Linked DNA regions of Homo sapiens: all the other regions are reported to be linked to region 2. Evidence: microRNA targets listed by miRTarBase, many of them from high-throughput screens and not tested one by one. Region 2 holds a microRNA gene; each other region holds the end of a gene's coding sequence.
Evidence for each region. Region 2 holds the annotated microRNA hsa-miR-6801-3p (ACCCCUGCCACUCACUGGCC, at 1,736-1,755, opposite strand). A microRNA usually pairs through its seed, bases 2 to 8, with sites in the 3' UTR of a target mRNA and lowers its output. Matches are read on the target gene's strand: a 7mer-m8 pairs with bases 2 to 8, a 7mer-A1 pairs with bases 2 to 7 and ends in A, and an 8mer does both.

Region 1 (4,486 bases), not on the chromosome of region 2:
TTGCAGGCTGTCCTCCCTAATAAAAGATTTTCCCAAGGTTGATCTGGAGGTGACGTTTCCCAAGGCATGGTTGTGACAGTCTTCCTGAAAGCAAGGGCCGTTTCTCCACAGAATGAGGAGGTCTTCACGGATGGCTTTGCCGATTCCAGCCCTTGGTCCTTGGATAGATTTCTGTTGGGCAAGGGAGACTTCGAGAATGCTGGCACCCATAGCGACATCTGCCCTGAGCTGCTCAGCAGGCAGGCAGCAGCCTCCCGCACCCATGGGAGAGAGTTTTGTTTTCTTGGCCGGGCTGGGCAGGTGCGCCTTCCTTTCTCTCTCCTGTGAAGAACTGCAGGAGGGCCCTCAGCTGTGAGGTTGTGGATGAACAGGCCTGTTCGCCCTGGGGTCCGGGCCTGGCACAGGAAGCAGCTAGACTAGGGGAGTCCTTGGAGCATCTGAGAGGGGTTTTCTTTCCTCTGGGAAGAGTCGCAAGTCTTATGAGGATGCCACAATCTGGGCAGTGACCCGTGGCCCTGGGGACCTTCCTAGTGCCCCCCAAAACCAAGGAAGCATTCACGTGAGATGGGGAGTCAGCCTTCCAGCTGGTGTGTAGGAAAGCCAGGTCCCTGGGCCCTTGTCCCATGTGGGGTTGAGATCCAGATCTCCATGAGATATTCCCATCCTCCGCCGAGCGGTGATGCGTGACCGTGTGTGCAGGCCGCTGTTCTCCCAAGCTCGGGGCCATGCCGTGCCACCGTCACCAGAGCCAGCTGCAGCACTGGGGCAGCCACTGTCGCCGGACTTGGGGAAGCCCAGGGTGAAGACAGTCACTCATCCGTGCAAGCTCTCCAGAAGGGATGCAAGCTCTCCAGAAGGGGTGTGATCTCTGAGCAGTGGGGAGTGGAGTCACCACTCGGGACATAGAGGGTGGACAGTTCAGGCCTGTGTCTGCCTCCTTGGGACTGTGGAGTGGGTGCCCTCAGTAAAGCGCTTTGTTGGAATGGTTGAGGTCGTTTTAAATTGAGTCCCTTCCACTTCCCCCGACATGGGCTGCCGTGGACATGCGGGGCTTACACCAGCGCCCTCCTGCCCCACATCATGCACACCTTGGGTGGGACCTGTGGGGGCAGCTGCCTGCCTTCAGCCCCACGGTTCCCCCTACCCCGTCCCCACCATTGCCGCCTCCTGCCTGTTCCCCTCCCGGCACCTCCTCACCCAATGCACCCAGCCATGGAGGACAGCCAGAAGCACGTCCAGCCCGGGGCACCCCACAGTCCCACTCCACTCCTCCCCAAGTCACCCCAAAAATGGGTTCTCAAGCCGAGCAGCACTGGCATCACACTCTGTCCCATTCACCCAGTTCACAGGAGAGGACCAAGGGCCCAGGAGGTCGCGTCACTCTGCCCGAAATGCCAGAAACGCCAACTCCACGCAGCCAGAAGTGGGCCTGACGCAGGCGCTCGCCACACCACGTCGCCCAGGAGGGAGGCAGCCACTGTCCCGGGCATCAGCCACAGGCGACCACCTGGGTGCAGCAGCTGAGTGGCAGCTGAACAGGTTCTAACACCTCATCAGGCAGGGCAGGCCGAGGGGGTCTACTCAGAACTGAGTCCTGATCCCAGACGGTGTGACACAACGGAGGCCCCCAGAGCATGCCTGTGTGGTTCCCTGGGCCTATGAACCTGTTTCTCTCTTCCTTTGAGACAGAGCTGCAGACCCCGGAGCACTGTCCTTGGACAACTGTCCACTCCTGGGCCTGGCCCCAGGATGGCCCAGCTCAGAATGAACTAGAAGGCCACTAGGTGTGGGCCCCTCCACCCCAGCTCGAGTTAAGCAATCTGGAGGCCTCCGGCACTAGGGCCAACACAGTGAGGGGCTCTTGGGAATATCAAGGTGCCCGAGGGCAAGAGGGTCCCCAGCCCCTTCACCAGGTCCCTAGGCCACCCCACTGGCCTGAGCTCAACCAGGAGACTGCCCAGGGGCCCTCAAAGTGGCCCTTAGGCCCCTCCAAGCCAGGGTCTCCCTTGAGACACCTCCTGTGTCCCAAAACCACATCCCCAGGGTGGCACTGCGGGCAGGAAGCAGCCCTCTTGGGCAAGCACCTCCCACGTTCATGATGCAGAGCGCAGGCTTCGACGCTGAGGTTAACAGGCATCCTGCAAGCAGGGCGTCCACCACCCCGTAGCCGCCTGCAGGACTCAGCCCTAGCCCCTGGTGGGCGCAGCTCTGCGCTGCCTTCTTTTCCCCTCTTGCGTGTCCACCATCAATGTCTCCTGGATACTGGCTCAAGCCAGCCACCAGCCTGCAGGTTGGAGACCCCCACTCAGGCTGAGGTTGGGGAGACAGAGGAGTGAGGCTGTACCCTTCTGCCCCCAGGGGAGGACCAGGAGGGGCTCAGGTCACCCTGGTGGCCCCCAGGGAGTCCTGGAGAGCACCTGTGGCCTCTCAGGGCACATGTCCCTTTGACCTGGCCCAGGCACTGGCCAGAGGGCCCTCCACCCCTGGGGCTGCTGCCCACTGGGCTGGCCGCTCGGTGCTGCTCCCCCCTCTCTCTGAGGAGTTCTGCAGGCTGTGCTCTCCGGAGACCGATGCACCCCACAGTCAGGGTGATTTTATTTCTAGAAAAGGTGACAGGTGCTGCACGTGGGCAGGAGCAGGTCACAGTGAGGCAGGGCCAGGGGCATCCCCCTCTCAACACAACCTAGGCGCCAGCAGCCTACCGGCCAGGTAGAGCAAGGGCTGGCCCATGTAGTGAGCCCAGCATGGGGAGACGCTGAGGGCCCATGGGGCGCCAAAGCCAGGGGGCAGCAGCCTCCAAACACCGACAGCGCCACGTCCCCTGGGCAGGAAGGTGGATGCCCCAGGGCACTCTGTCCTCCTGCTGGAGGGCCTGGCAGGCTGGTCTCAAGACACCAGCCCGAGGGAGGCCTGGCAGGTGGCCAGGGATAGAGGCAGGGGATGGGCTGAGCAGGGACGCAGCCCCCACCTGCCTGCAGGCTCCAGACACAACAGCCCAGGCCCCATCTGAGCCCTGGCGCTGCGCTGGCATGGGTGGGGGCTGGGGAGGGGCGTGGGCATGGCTGGCCTCAGAAGCCCTTGTCCATGCTCAGGGTGCGGCGGGTCACGTGCTCCAGCTCCCCTGACACGTAGGCGGCCATACTGATGCGGTATTGTGCCAGCATCTTCAGCATGAGCCGCAGGCTCAGCCACCACTGCTCCCGTGGCATGCGGTGCCTGTGCAGGACGGGGATGGGAGGATGATGGGGAGTCAGGGGTCAGGGCAGCTCTTCAGCCACGTCCCCAGCCCCCCCACCCCCCCCGACCCTGCAGCCTGTGCATGCCCCTCTGTCTGAACATCTCGGTATCCGTGGAGCTGGGACAGGTCTGGGGTCCCCATCCCTCGGAGGCACAGCACAGAGTCAGCCTCAGCCGCCCTCAAGCGTGCCCACTCCTGGCTACCCGCTGTGCCCCCATGCCCACCCGAAAGGATTGCCCAGTGTTGTGCTCAGAAGACTTGGGCATGGTCCCTGCTCTCCACGGCCTGGCGGGGACCTGGGCATGGGGGCCCAGGAGGCCTTGCGGGGTCAGGGTGCCAGTGGGGCTGGGCCTGGCACACCTGCCTCAGGGAAGGTCTGGGCCACCCCTCAGCCCCACCCGCCTCCACGAGGCTTTGGTGGAACTCACTCGAAATCAGTGTCTTTCTTGAGCTCAGTGACGGGGCTGAAGGCCACCGCCTTCTTCTTCAGGCCGATCACGCAGGCCGAGTCTGGGGCATTGGCGAACACCCGTCCTGCAAACAGAGGCACGTGGCAGCCCTCCATGGTGAGGCCCTGCCCCAGGGAGCCAGGGGAGGGCAAAGTGAGGCCTCGGGTCGCACCCACCACCTACCCTTGCGGTAAACCTCGCGCAGCTTCTCCGACAACCACAGCATGGCCTTCACCCCCAGCTTGGTCCCATAGTTCCGGTCAAAGGGGGTTGGAGCGCCACCCTGGAAACAGGTGAGGCCCGGTTCCCTGGACTCCCCTGGGCTGCCTGGGCCAAGGCCAACGCCAGTGCAGACAGGATCCCCACGGGGAGCCTCCCAGGCAGCTTGTGAACACCCATTCCTTCCAACCCGTGCACCGTTCCCGTCTGTTCCCGATCGAGGACCCTGCCTGCTCTCTCCAGCTCCAAGTCCAGGCCAGAAGCTGCCTCCCGAGGCCGGCAGTCGGCTGCCCCTGGCCAAGTCAAGTGACTCCTGGGCCCTGCATCGGCAGCCAGCGGCCCCACCTCGGGCCCCATCACCTCGGGCCCCATGCCCAGCCACCCTGACTCCCCTCCCTGGCTCAGAAAACCCCAGGACGCGGGCTTCCTGCAGGGCCACCATAAGGCAGGGAGCATGCGGGGATCTAGGTGAGGGGTTCGGCGGAAGTGGCCGCGGGAGGCCTGGCAGGGGTGGGGAGCTCGGCTCAGCATGTGAATGCCCTGGCTCGGGCCCCGGCTCCAGCCCCAGCCCCACCCCTTC
Region 2 (7,186 bases):
AGCTTCACCAAATTCCACTCCAGATCCACTCCCGTTTTCAGAGTGATCAAACCCTAAATGTACAGCCCCACGTGCAATGGATGAGAGTTCCAGCTCTTCTATGTCTTCACCATTTGCACCACTGAGTCTTTTTTAATGTTGGCTGTTCTGGGAGGCGTGTAGTCATATGTCACTGAGATTTAATTTGCATTTTCCTGAAGGCTAATGATGCTGAACACCCTTGTCATATGCTTACTGGCTATTTGGAGATCCTTTTTCAAGTGCCTATTCAAGTCTTTTTCCCCATCTCTTTCTTGTCTTGCCTGATTTGTAGACAGGTATTGTGGATGAGTCCTTTCTCAGAAACATATATTAAAACATCTTCCTCCAGTCAGTGGCTTGCATTTTACTCTCAAAATGCTGTCTTTTGAGAAACAGCGTTACATTTTACAGAAGGTCAACTTACCCATCACTTCCTCTGGTTTGCTGTTTAACAAATCTGTGCCTACGCTAACTCAAGAAGATATTTTCCTACATTTTCTTCTAGGTCCTTTATTTTTAAAATCTTTCTGGTTCTGGTCTGTCATCTCAAATTAATTTGTTTATGCATTGAGGCGAGCCTTCTTTTATTCCTAAATGGATATCAAATTGACTCAGCTATGTTTTTTAAAAAACATACATTTCTCCACTGAACTGCAGAGATGCCTACTGTTAAACACATGTGGGACTGTTTCTGTACCCTTGATTCCATTCTATTGGGCGATTTAAATATGCTTGTGTTCACATCTATTTTAATTATTGTGGTGTCATAAGTCTTCGTCTCTGGTAGTGTAAATCAGACAACTTTGTTCATTAGAAGTGTCAATTTTCCACTAAAGAACCTGTTAAGATTATTGGGCTTATACTGAATCTAAAGATGAGTTCAGGGAACTGTCCCATCCGTGAATATTATGTAGGTCTGCTTTAATTTTTTTTGAGACAGTCTCGCTCTATCGCCCAGGCTGGAGTGCAGTGGCATGATCTCAGCTCACTGCAACCTCCACCTCCTGGATTCAAGCAATTCTCTTGCCTTCAGCCTCCCAAATAGCTAGGATTACAGGTGAGTGCTACCGCACCGGCTAATTTTTTGTATTTTTACTAGAGACGGGGTTTCGCCATGTTGGCCAGGCTGGTCGTGAACTCCTGACCTCAACTGATCCGCCCACCTTGGTCAGGTCTGCTTTAATTTCTCACATTAGTGTTTTACAGTTTACATTAGAGGTGTTACATACACATCTTTCATTGAATTTATTCCTGGCTATTTGATATTTTTGGTGCAATTATAAATTATACACATACTTACATATAAAACATAAGGTGATTTCATTTTCTAATGACTTGTTGCTAGTATACAGGACTGCCAACCCATCACCCCCTCTTTCTATTTCATGCTGTGATGTTCATTTTACAGTTGAGAAAACACACCTTGAGAAGGGAAGGGAGCCAAGGTCACACAGCAAGCAAGGAGCGCTGCCAGGCCTCTGACCCTGGGCTCTACCTTCAAAGGTCAAAGATTAAGGTGCCCACAAGAAGCCCCTGCCAGTGTGTGGGGGAGTATCCAGACCTCACCTGTTGTCCAGGATGGGCCCTATCTTCTGCAGAGACTTGGCCACATTGAAGCGGACATTGGCAACCGGGTCCCCAGCCATGCGCAGAACCGTGGGTAGCATGTGCTTGGTGGTGATGTCCTGCCCACAGACCTCAGACAGCACCTGGGGGCCAGTGAGTGGCAGGGGTGAGTATGCAAAGCTCCTGGCTAACTCTCATTTCCTGCTGCCTCTGACCAGGCCACTCTGGTGATCATCAGGCCCCACAGAGGCTGAGCAATACGGGTGACTCAGTTAGTGGAGTGAATCTCCCAACTCCACTAACACCATCCTAACACCATGTCCCAGTTTCTCTGTCCTCAGGCTTCCCTTAATTATTCTGGAGATCGACCTTAATTACCAAGCCCTAGGATCCCTCCTTAAAGCAATGCTCTCCAGAGAGTGGCGTGGGAAGAAATGATCAGAACACTTAGTTATATTTATTTTTAAATCCCTTCCTTTCTAGCCCTGTGTATGGTTTACACATAAATAAGTAGTACATGAGATAATTATAATCGTAGGAAAAGCAAATAGACAGGAGCACTTCCTACCTGTAGCATAACTGTTCTAAGCCCTGTGCGTGTATAACCTGATTAATCTTCACGCTCACCAGGCTGTGATTACCAGTATGAATTCTTTACAGTATGAATTATTTACAAATGAGAAGACCAAAGCATCGGTTAGGTAACTATCCAAGGTCCATAGCTAATATATGGCAGTACCAGAATTTAAAACTAGGTCTGACCTAGAGCCCATACACTCACCCAACGCACCACAGATAGAGACACACATTTCTCAGGGAAGGAGAGGGGTGCTCATAAAGCTTGAGATCGCTGCTCCAACAGGTCAAGTCTCCCAGGCCCTGGGTCCCTCACCATCCAAGTCCCCAGTCCCAGAGGCCCTATGACCCTGACCCTGGGAGCCCCACCCCCTTGCCTGCAGTTCCCCAAGGACTCATCTCTGGATAGAAGATGCACTCCATGTCTCCATTCCCAAGCCAGGTGTCTCCCTTGGGGAACCCTCTAGCATCCCTCCTCTCCCACGCGCTCCAGTTCCCTAGGGATGGGCCAGCAGGCAGGTGGAAGGCTCACATTGATGCAGAAGAGCGTAGTCATGCGGTGCAGGTAGTTGGGGTCTCCGGACATGGCCAAGACCTTGGGGATGATTGTGGCATGGGCCCACTCCTTCCCAAACTTTTCCACTAGCTTCTTCAGGTTGCTGGTGGCTGCCTCGCGGATGGCATATACTGCAGAAGGGTGAGGGTGAGAGAGACAGGGATTTGGAGGTGAAGAACTGATGTGGGCAAAATGTAGGTCACACTCACCATGGCTTACAAAGCAGCCCCTAGGTGCCAGGCTGCATGTGAGCCAAAGAGAGAAAAAAGGACTTACTATGTGCTATATCTAGTAACTGTTTTTTTTTATACAGTATCTTTTCAACCACTCCAAGAGGTAGGTTCCACTACTGGCTTCATTTTACAGATGGGCAAACTAAGGCTCTAAGAAGTGATTTGCCTAAATTATGTGGCACTTATTACTTCAAACAGGGCTTCACAGAGATAAATATTACCTTTTATTTTTTACCTCTCTTAGTGTAAACAATGAGCCATTCTCATAATGGCCCCAAGGCACCAGAATAAGAAGTTTCAAAGAATGAGTGTGGGGCTCATTCAAAGACAGCAGGTGACTTGTTTTAGATCTGACAGCCCCAAGGGCAGGATTCAAAACCCTGGTCTGGCTGCTCAGTGGCCCTCTGGCTCTCCACTATACCAGGCAACCCCTGGGTGATCTGTTTCGTCCTCCTCCCACTCAACACTTCTCTAGGACTCTAACAAGCATGCGAGCTGGTCCATACGAGCATCCAGCGGCGTGGGGAGTGACTCTAGCCTCCTCCACTGCCCGCCACAGCCCCAGCCAATCCATCCTGCCTTTCTGGAGCTCCCATCTCCTCTTGCTGCTCCTGTGAAGGTACTCACCATGATCCACAAGCCAGGCCATGCACAAGGAGTTAAGTTTCTCATCAAAGAACTCCACTCCCTACAGGAGAAACCAAGGGTTCCAAGGTAAGCGTTCCAGGAGAGCAAACAGGGGGAGCTGCTAGCCACATCCCATGGAACCTACACCCACCCTAGAAAGACCGGACACTTCTCAACTTTGTCTGAGGTGCTCCTTTCCCTCCTCTCTCTTATTGAATCCAATGCATCTTTTAAGGCCCTATTTCCTGGGTCCCTTCCTTCGACTCCCCAGGCAGTTGTCACAGCCTCCACTAAGCCTTCAAAGCCCCGTTTCCCCATCACAGCCCTGGACATACTGCACCTCCCCTGAGGCAGCACTGCCTGGCCCCCAGGCCTCCTCACTCACCAGCTGTCCAGCCAGGAGGGGCATGTACTCAATGATGGCCAGCCGCACCCGCCACTTGGCGTCCTCAGCCAGCTCCACAATGGCAGGGAGCAGGGACTGGGACAGCTGCCGGATGCCAATCACCTCGTTCACACAGTCCAGGTTAGAGATGATGTTCAGCCGTACCTCAGGGCACTGAGGAGAGGAAAGAAGGATTCTGAGAGAATGCAATGCACACAGCAACCCAGGACAGGATGGAAAGAGCTCAGCTGCATCAACTTTTATGGACATCTCCCGAGGGACTACTCCTGTCCAAGCCCAGCTCCCCGTTCTGGGAACACATTAACGGCACACAAAAAGCAAGCAGCATGGATCACTAACTTAAGCAGATTTTTAAACCTTACAATAGTATCACAAGAAATGTTTATCCATTTTGAAAAGACTTTAAGAATCACAGTAGGAAAATACAGCACCCTGGAAAAAACAGGCAGACATGATTCTTCTAATCCTAGCTCCGCTGCTTGCTAACAAGGGTTCCTTTCTGGGTATCAATCCACAACATGGGAGAAGGGAAGGAAGAAAACTATTTCCTTATTAAAACTATTTTAGTCTAAAAAAATAAATAAATAAAGGAGCACTGAAATGAATCAATAACCAAGTGAACAAGCCTGGCAGGCTTGGGCTGTTGAAACCCTGCACATTCCGAGGATAGGACTGGCCCTTGCCCAGCTCCAGCCCTTGCTGTGTGAGCCTCAAGCTGCTGAACATGTGCATGAGAAGAGAAGGCTCAGAGACTATACCTCACCCATTTAAAAAGACTTATTTTTGGTGCACCAGTAAAAAGGTAGCCTTTTTCATTTAGACAAGTTTATAAATTCTGGTGAGAGTCAAAATGTAAAATATAAAGTTTATAAATCTAAAATGGAAATCTCAAATATAAGTCAGATGAATTCCTCACACCAAGAAAACCATGCTGGTTCTTTTCTTCTAAGAGAAGCTGCCCTGAGACAGGCTGGCTGCCAGCACACGATTACCATATAGCGCTTGCTGAAGGTGAAACTGGAGCAAAAAATGCTCCAGTCCTAGCGCACTTGCAGCACGTATGGGCTTGCCTTCAAACTGGGCTGAGCCTGGATCCTTCCCTCATGCCAGAGGCAAAATGATCCCCAAAACGCTGGAGAGGTGTGAAATGACATAGCAGACAACTTGAGGGGCTCTCACCTGCCAAATTATGCCCATTAAAGCATCAAAAACAAATATAAATTGTATTAATATCTATAAAATTATAAAAACTATGTGCATGTGAAGCATAACTCAGATAAATTACTTAAGTCATAAAATTTGTCATGAACACTAATGAAGATTCAGACTTTTAGCAACTGACGTAATTAACTGATTAAAACCAGTACAGTTAATCACCCACTAATAGGGAAAAACAAAAAGAACAAAAAAATATTAAAAATAGCGCACTCTTTTCAATGTATTAAAAAATTCACTGTAATTCTGGGGCTAAGAGATTACTCCACTGTAACAGAATTGAATAACGTAACTTTTAGGGGCATGGAGGACTGAAATGTGATGCAGTACTTTCTGTTACAGTATTTCCTCCAACTTTCTAGCAGACTGTGTGGGCGCCTGTGTATAAAAAAGAAAGAAGGGGATGGGGAAGAAAGACTGAGGCTTTTGGGAAGCCTCACACACTTCCCATCTTTTGGGAAAGATGTCACACACCAGCACACAATTGCACCATCTGCCCAGTTTTTCACCACCAAGGCAAAAACCACCACGTGGTCCCTTCTGCCTCCTGAACAATCTTGAATCCTTCCGTATCAATGCAGCCTCATCTCTACATACCACTTAGTCTAGCCTCAGCCTTCCAGACTCCCACAGCCTCCGGTTTGGTCTGCCTACACTGCTGCTGGCCACCTCACTTCAATCCTTCCTTCACATAAGCCTCAGGGTGCCTTCTAACACCAACTCTATTCTGGCTCTTCCGCTTGCCCACAGTCAAGTCCAAACTCCTTCCCCAGTGGTCACCCTGATGATCTCTCCAGTCATCACCCAGCACCGCCTCTCATCCTTTGTAATACAGGCAACCTGAACTGCTGGGTGTGGTCACGTGACCCTCCTGGCCAATGGGTGTATGGGGTGCAAGCACATGTGAGGAATCTCGTCCTAGACTGTTATGAGAGAGAGAAAAAAAATCCACCACCGAATTTAAGCCAGAATGTATTCTGGGGTCTATATTAGAGCACCTTAGCCTAAACCCTAAAAAACATGAACTCATCCTTAACAGCACCTGTAACACCTTAATGGCATCATGGGACTGCCTGTCTCTCTCCACTGCCAGTCTCTGAAGGCTTTTGGGGATCAAAACTCTTATTCTAGGCTGGGGGCAGCGGCTCACGCCTATAATCCCAGGCCTTTGGAGGCCAAGGCAAAAGGACTGCTTGAGATCAGGAGTTCAAGACCAACCTGGGCAACATAATATCTTGTCTCTATGGAAAATGTTTTTTAAAATTATCTAGATGTGGTGGCTCTTGCCTGTAGTCCCAGCTACTTGGGAGGCTAAGGTGGGAGGATCACTTGAGCCTGGAAGGTGGAGGCTGCAGTAGACCATGATCACATCACTGCACTGCAGTGTGGGCAATAGAGCAAGACCCTATCTCAAAACATAAATAAATAATTTTTTTTTTGAGACAGAGTCTTGCTCTGTTGTCCAGGCTGGAGTGCAGTGGTGCAATCTTGGCTCATTGCAACCTCTGCCTCCTGAGTTCAAGTGATACTCCTGCCTTAGCTGCCCGAGTAGCTGAGATTACAGGCACTCGCCACCATGCCTGGCTAATTTTTGCATTTTTAGCAGACACGAGGTTTCATCATGTTGGCCAGGCTGGTCTCGAACTCCTGACCTCAGGTGATCCACCCGCCTCAGCCTCCCAAAGTGCTGGGATTACAGGCGTGAGCCACCGCGCCTGGCCATAAATAAAAACTTTAAATTTCTATTTTTCATATCCTCCATGTCCAGGAAAGGCCTCATGAAGAGTGCCTGGAGGAATGAACGCATGAACACACAGCTATGCCCACAAACATGCAACTCAGCAAAGATCTGGATGTCTGTTGAGATATCAGCAGATTCCTGGTCAATCTAGGTAAACCCTAGCAATCTAGGAAGACCCGCCTGTCCCCTCCACAAACCCAGAGCTGAGATCCTGGTGCCCTTACCTCATCCTTCAGCTGAGCCAG
Region 3 (3,000 bases), not on the chromosome of region 2:
TGGGAGGCCGAGGCGGGCAGCTCACAAGGTCAGGAGATCGAGACCATCCTGGCTAACACGGTGAAAACCCATCTCTACTAAAAATACAAAAAAATTAGCCGGGCGTGGTGGTGGGGACCTGTAATCCCAGCTACTCGGGAGGCTGAGGCAGGAGAATGGCATGAACCCAGGAGGCAGAGCTTGCAATGAGCTGAGATCACGCCACTGCACTCCAGCCTGGGCGACACAGTGAGACTCCGTCTCAAAAAAAAAAAGAAAAGAAAGAAAGCTCTTGCCAAAGTGTAGAATGAATTCTGAAACCAGAAACATTTTCCACCCCCAAAATAGGAGGCCCATAAAGTATTTGCTCGGCAAGATTTCTGAGTTGCTGCAGGCCTGAATGCTGGGCCCCTCTCATTCCTCACCACTGTGGAAGTGTTTCCTCACATTGTCTTGATCCTGTTCTACCACTGCACACTGCGGGTGAGGGATGCATTTTACCTGTCTTCTTAGTTTACTTGTCCCTGAAACAGGACTGGCCATGTACAGACCTGACATAGAGACTATTGTGAGATCACTCAGAGATCCTGAAATTGAAGCTCAAAGCCATGATTTGATGTGGCTGTAAATCGTCTCCCTTGCAAAGTGAGTCCTACTTTTGGAAACAGGAGAGCAAAGTTGTGTTGGCACCAGAGAGAGGACTACGGCAGTGACAATGCTTACCAAACATTGTGGTTAGGCAAGGCCATGTAACTAGCTCTGACCTGTGGGCTGTGGGCAGTAGTGGCCCCAGTTATCTTCTTCTGCGACCAACACAGGAGACTGAGGAAACCTTGTGCTGAGATGGCAGAACCGCACGTGGAAACATTCTACATAATTGTGTCACAGCATGCAGCGCAAAGTTCCTGGAGAGTTACGTAGACCTACAGACTTTGCATGAAAAATCAATTACTATTAAGTTAGAACGCTAAGATTTGGAGTTGCTTCTTACGGCAGCATACTCCAGTCTATCCTATCTTATCTAAACCTCAAGAAGCAAAATTTTGAAGCTCTTCAGAGCTCAGTTTCAATCTCATTTTTCTTCTCACTGTGGGCTTCTCTTAGGCAATTGTACATCTGTCCTTCTTCAATCTCCATCAAGCCATGTGTTTCCTACCCCAATGCCTTTGCATCTGCTATTCTGTCCCAAAGTCCACTTCTCCTCACCTACCTGGGTACACTTCTAGACTACCTTTCCCAGACTCCCTTGCAGTTACTGTGGCCAAAGAATGTACAATTCCAGGCAGTGTGATGTGAACAGAAGTAATGTACACCACTCCCAGGCCTGCCCATAAGAACACCCTCTACATTCTCCCCCTTGCTCTTTCCCCTTTCCTATTGGCTGCAATGGAGACGACCACCAATGCGGCAGTGTTGGACGTGTGCAGAAGATGGCAGATCTTCTGTCAGAATGGATCCCAGAACGTGGTCCCAGACTGTGTGAAGAAAAGTCACCCCATCTTTCTGTCTTTTTCCAGTATAGGTACCTGAGCAAAAAATACACTTCCATTGTGTTTAACCCAGGATATATGTGGGGGCCTACTATTATAACAGCACGATTTTAACCAAAACTTACACTTGCAGCATTGATCAACCATACCACCACCACCATGCACACACACACACACACACCCCTGCACTCTGCACTGCTCACACCCACTCAATATTCTAGGTCTGTGCATTAAGATGCATCCCTGACTCTTCTCATCCAGTCTAATTTAAGTTGCTCTGTCATTCTTTCTCTTTCCCTACTCTTTCTTGTCATTTTACTTATCACAATGCATAATTACATATTAACCAGTGTGTTACTGATTTAGAGTTTGTGTCCAAACATTAATTTTTGTGTTATTTATATAAAGGTTGTGCCCAAAATCAGAACCTTTTGCCTGCCACAATAACATACATAGAGGCTATGCAGTGCTTAGCACACAGTAGTTGCTTAACAAATTTTAAAATGTACAGGATGAATATATGAGAAGCCGCCATTAAGAGGATACATGTTTTCATCATAAGACCACAATGCCAGACCAAAAATCTTAGAGAACTGAAATACATGCACTGGGGATTTTTTTTTAACCTTTATTCATTCAGAATGCAATTCTGGGCCACTCTACAACCAAGAGAAAACCCTAAACTTTTAAGTAGTGTTAACGGACTACATAATATAATAGTATTGCTCCTATATGTACAAGCAAGAAGTCAATTTTTATTCTTTTCATAAAACCTCTTTGTAAACATGTACCTTTTCTTCCCATCAAAAATGCATTAACAAGATCATGCTTATAGTTAGTCAGCACAAGAAAAAAACGACAATTTATACTGAACTATTTAAGTCTTGCAGTAGAGTGCTCACAACTCCGAGCTGTATCTGTTAACCTTTTCAATAGCATTCATTATGTGACATTGTCACCAATTACAGTAAAAGAACTTCACTAATTTTTGAAAGCTAGAATTACTCAAAAAATTCTGCATTGTAAATAATACCAGGAATATTGCATTTAAGCCTAGGATGGCAAAATTACTTAAATCTTTTCTATACTTTTTTGTGTAATATAGGTAGGAAAATGAATACTATATAAGAGAATGAAATATATCAAGTTCTTATATTTTTACCTAAGAGGCTATTTATTTTAAGGAAAGTTGATTAATATTTAAATGATTAAAAAATAAATCAATGTTAAGTATTAACTGCACAAAATCTAAAAAAAAGACCACATTACATCATACTACATTATATAGATAGATTTAAAGCAGCTAACTAGAAGCCTTTTTAAAAATTTAAAGTTTCTGACATCATTTTCCACCATTCCATCAATTCTTCCTTCTCCTCTTCTTTCCTTTCAGAAAATGACTCCAGTTCAAAATCAACCTAAAAGAGAAAATCAAGAACATATTATTATCAAACTGCATGTGTTTTTTTAAATTGAAATAAAAAAATAAGAGCAGTTTCAGTATACACTCAATCCAGCCACCTGAATTAAA
Region 4 (4,054 bases), not on the chromosome of region 2:
AGACTCTGTCTCAAACAAACAAACAGACAAACAAAACAAAAGAAATGACAAGGGGTGAGGACAAGATGACACATAATAGAGGAGCCTGGGCTCACCGTAGGAGAACTGGGTTAGGAGAGAGAAAGCCTGAGCCCTTCCTGGACTTGTTTGCCCTGGGCCAGGGTTTTACAAAACAGCATCTCTCTCTCTCTCCCTAGGAACCAAGATGACCCTTGTTGGGGCATTGAGAATATCATGAGTGCCACGGGGAAGGGGAGTAGGGATGTCTTTTCCCCCCCAGCAGTGATGAGTGGGGCTAGCTGAAGCCCATTGGTTTCCACGATTTCAATTGGCTGAGAAGGCAGAGAGCTAGCTCCTCCCTTTCTTTCTTTTTCCACCTGAGACTTGTTTATAAAAAACAAAACAATAAAAAGAGTCTGATCAGAGCCCAGGGCCCTGTCTGTCTGGTTCTGTGCAGCAGGTTGGGAAGAAGGGGACTGCAGGGTCCTGTATATCAACGCACACTGGTAGCTTCTGCTTCCCCTTCCACTCCGTCAAAAGCACTAAGTTAGGCCAGGCACAATGGCTCACACTCATAATCCCAGTGCTTTAGGAGGCTGAGGCAGGAGGATCATTTGAGCCCAGGAGTTTGAGACCAGCCTGGCCAACCTAGAAAGAACTTGTGTCTACACACACACACACACACACACACACACACACACACACACACACACACAAATAAATAAATAAATAAATAAATAAATTAGCCAGGTATGGTTGTGTGCACCTGTCATCCTATCTACTTGAGAAGCTGAGGCAGTAGTATTGCCTGAACCCAGGTGTTGGAGGTTATAGTGAGCTATGATTGTGCCACTGGACTTCATCCTGGGTGACAGAGTGAGACCCTATCTCAAAAACAAACAAACAAACAAAAAACTGAAAAAACACTAGGTGGGGACTGTACCGTCCTGCTTCTTAAAGGAGTAAGAAGCTCACTGTTCCCGAGTTACAACCATAGAGACTTTCCAAATGCCCAGTAATAAGACACATGTTCCACCTTTGGAAGGTCAAGCCAGGCCCTTCTTTAGTGCCCTCCTCTGGGGTCTGTCTACTTTCCCACAAGAAAATACACCCCTCACAAAAAATTATTTTGAAAAACTCAAAGAAAGGAGGAGCTTATGGGAGAAACCCCAGGCAAGAAGGAAGAGCATGCTTTTTCAAACCATCTGACTCCGTCACAGAGGGTATGTACAAATGGGCAGCTCTTGGTGGGCCCAGATGTGATTGGGTTGATGGGCACAGAACTGTTAAGACTTTTTTGTGGTGAATGCCGTGGTCCTCGTCACCTCCTGCCCTGCATCCCGTGTGCTCACTGGTGACCTGAGGTTTTGTTCCTTCTCGCTTGCTCCACCCTTGACTCAGTGACTTCCCTGGACTCTCTGGGATTGGCAGCTGCCCTCCAGTCCCAGGCCCTGACCTCGTCTGCCCCTTTGACCTGTGAGTGTACAAATCTCTCTTTCCCTTTCAGTCTGGCAAACAGGGTTGGGATGTTTTCAAAAGGAATTTTACCAGGAAGCTAAAAAGAAACCAAAACAACCTCCTCCCCGCAACTGCCACAAAATCCAGATAAGGAAAAGCAAATACAGAGGAACAGATGTGTATGTGGAATACTGATTCTTCCTCCTGAGATCACAAAAATCTGGCCCAGACTGTCCTGATTAATGTGGTTCAGGAAGCCCCCAGTCCCCATGGTCCTGCCTCATTCAGCCTCTCAACTCCCAGTGGCCTCCAAGTAGAGCTGCTGGGTTTGAGGGATGAGCACCCCCTTTTAGGCTCTGCTTCCTGTGGCCCTGTCATGCTCTGTAGCATCCCCTCCACCAACTTGTGGATTCTGCCCCCGACCTTTCCCGCCAAGGGAGGAAGACGCAGGCCTGCCTACCCTCCAGTGCCTCCTGTGGCTCAGGCCCTGGAAGTCCTGCTTCGAGGTTCATCTCTCTGTTCTGTTTTTTTCTTTGAAGGGTGTTCCTAAGCCAACCGTGACAGGTGGTTCTACCTTTTCTGGAGTTCAGCTGCTTTGTCTATTTTAAGAAACCATCTGGGACTGCTGAAAGCAGTTTTCTCCTCAGGATGGGTGAAATCAAGGGGTTAATTTGATCAAGTCTGCCTGCCCTGCTTGCTTTTTGTTTTTTCCCTTTTTCCATGGAGCACAAAGCTTCTTTGGTAGCTGAAGGCCTCGCTGCTGAATGTGGAAACAACCTTCACTGGCTACTTTATAGGTAACATTCATAGGTCACTATGAGAATGGGCGCTACAGTCATTTTTCAGGAACTTGGGACAGCTCTTGTCCAGCTCAAACCAATCGAGACCACCGACTTTTCTACTGGGCCTCTGCAAGTGCTCGAGGGGTGGCCTTTTGACATCGGAGGGCCAAAAACTCCACCCTCAGATCATAACACAACCATTTTCTTTTCTTTTTTTTTTTTCTTTTTTTTTTTTTGAGACCGAGTCTCTCTCTCTCACCCAGGCTGGAGTGCAGTGGGCGATCTCGGCTCACTGCAAGCTCCGCCTCCCGGGTTCACACCATTCTCCTGCCTCAGCTTCCTGAGTAGCTGGGACTACAGGCTCCCGCCACCACGCCTGGCTAATTTTTTGTATTTTTTTTTTTTTTTTAGTAGAGACGGGGTTTCACCATGTTAGCCAGGATGGTCTCGATCTCCTGACCTCATGATCTGCCTACCTCCGCCTCCCAAAGTGCTGGGATTACAGGCGTGAGCCACCGTGCCCAGCCAGCAAAACAATTTTCTACACAAATGTCCTTATGAAATGCCATGAACCCCAAGTACACTTGGGCAGAATGAACCTATTACTTCATTTTCCCCACAGCCAATCACCCTTCCCCATGCCTTAGACCATCCCACTTCCCTCAGCCATAAATATCCCTAAGGCTTATCTTGAGGAGGTGGATTTAATATAAGTTGCCAGGACCAGCAGACCCTGAAACTCCCCACCCCTGCCCTTCCTATATTCTGCTTAAAATTTGGTGGATGAACCTCATTCTCCCTTTAATTGCAGAACAGAAATGTGTGACACTCCCTGAGTGTCAATGAATGCCTGATCCCTGCCTAACTCAGGAAATTCTTGCCATCTCTCCAGGTGCTCCCCTAAAAATGGTGCTCCGGGGAATGATCTCACAGAACTCAAGTCTTTACCATTTTATGGTATCAAATTTCTTAAGCTCATAGTGACAACAGTACGAGGATGGTGCTTTTGACCTACGGTCTCATACCTCCCTTCCTTCAGCATCCTCGCTAGACCCAGCCTTGAACCCTTTGTTTGGCATGAGGTAGGGCCTCAGTGCCTCAGTGGCATTCATAATTATTTTCTTTCCATGGTGAGGTTGGGAGAGAGTTGAGCTCTTCTCTAGAGGAGGGGCCCAGGTAAGGCTGAGAGGGGGCTCCGAGAAGCTCCTTCCTCCACAGCCCTCTCCCAGCAGCCACTGCTGTCCTCCACAAAGGCACCTCTGGCTCCTCCACTTCCTGTGATCCAAATGGTGGGGGAAGAGCAGCAGGCAGGGCTGCTCCTCAGGCCAAAACAACCTGGTGGTGGGAGTGGATGGCACAGAGGAGAAAGCAGTGGCTAGGAGTCAGGTGGAGATGATGTTTTGCTCCCTGAGGGCTCCAGGTCAGCTTTGCTCTAATTTTGTTTTCATTTGTTTTCACAATCGTGGAGGGAGAACTCTCTGGAGGCTTGGGAAGGTGGACCCCAGCTGCAGAGAAACACAGGCCAAGACCCACACACCACAGCCCAGGTCTTGTGGGTGGACAGGAGAAGTGGTTCTGATTCCCGTCTGGGAAGTCTCAGGGACACGGTTCAGGAGTAATCTACAGGAGAAGCTGAAGGACAGTGGAGTTATCTCCCTTGCTCCTTATCTCCCTTCCCCAGTGCCAGGCTTCCTCCTGGCTTCTTCCCAGAGGCCCTCTGGTCAAGATGAACACATTAGCCAGGAAGACAGACACTCACCACCAGCCTTGGGCATACGACAGTGGAGCTGACTTCTCTGGGAAGAGATCTGAGA

Region 1: miRTarBase lists PFKL as a target of hsa-miR-6801-3p. Seed matches in the 3' UTR shown: 7mer-A1 at 2,818-2,824.
Region 3: miRTarBase lists CPE as a target of hsa-miR-6801-3p. The part of its 3' UTR that is shown has no 7-base or 8-base seed match.
Region 4: the mRNA of ROBO4 is a reported target of hsa-miR-6801-3p. Seed matches in the 3' UTR shown: 7mer-m8 at 2,987-2,993.

Annotation. Positions count from the first base shown.
Region 1 is chr21:44,325,445-44,329,930 of GRCh38, reverse strand. It overlaps PFKL (phosphofructokinase, liver type), which reads right to left. Exons shown (of 22, transcript NM_002626.6): 20 at 3,871-3,970; 21 at 3,667-3,772; 22 at 2,558-3,216. The coding sequence ends at 3,069. It overlaps CFAP410 (cilia and flagella associated protein 410), which reads left to right. Exons shown (of 7, transcript NM_004928.3): 7 at 1-987. Among named protein-coding and RNA genes, the nearest start is that of CFAP410, 12 kb to the left of the region's middle. RefSeq lists an enhancer at 283-412 and a silencer at 1,371-1,665.
Region 2 is chr19:52,216,643-52,223,828 of GRCh38, reverse strand. MIR6801 (microRNA 6801) reads right to left here and starts at 1,809; the gene lies at 1,731-1,809. It overlaps PPP2R1A (protein phosphatase 2 scaffold subunit Aalpha), which reads right to left. Exons shown (of 15, transcript NM_014225.6): 9 at 7,166-7,186; 10 at 3,965-4,138; 11 at 3,580-3,640; 12 at 2,696-2,850; 13 at 1,588-1,730. RefSeq lists an enhancer at 1,070-2,269.
Region 3 is chr4:165,497,399-165,500,398 of GRCh38, reverse strand. It overlaps CPE (carboxypeptidase E), which reads right to left. Exons shown (of 9, transcript NM_001873.4): 9 at 1,852-2,887. The coding sequence ends at 2,789. Among named protein-coding and RNA genes, the nearest start is that of MIR578, 110 kb to the right of the region's middle.
Region 4 is chr11:124,881,042-124,885,095 of GRCh38, forward strand. ROBO4 (roundabout guidance receptor 4) reads right to left here. Exons shown (of 18, transcript NM_019055.6): 17 at 4,000-4,054; 18 at 2,650-3,872. The coding sequence ends at 3,850. ROBO3 (roundabout guidance receptor 3) reads left to right here. Exons shown (of 28, transcript NM_022370.4): 28 at 198-430. The coding sequence ends at 209. Among named protein-coding and RNA genes, the nearest start is that of ROBO4, 15 kb to the right of the region's middle. RefSeq lists a silencer at 1,732-2,026.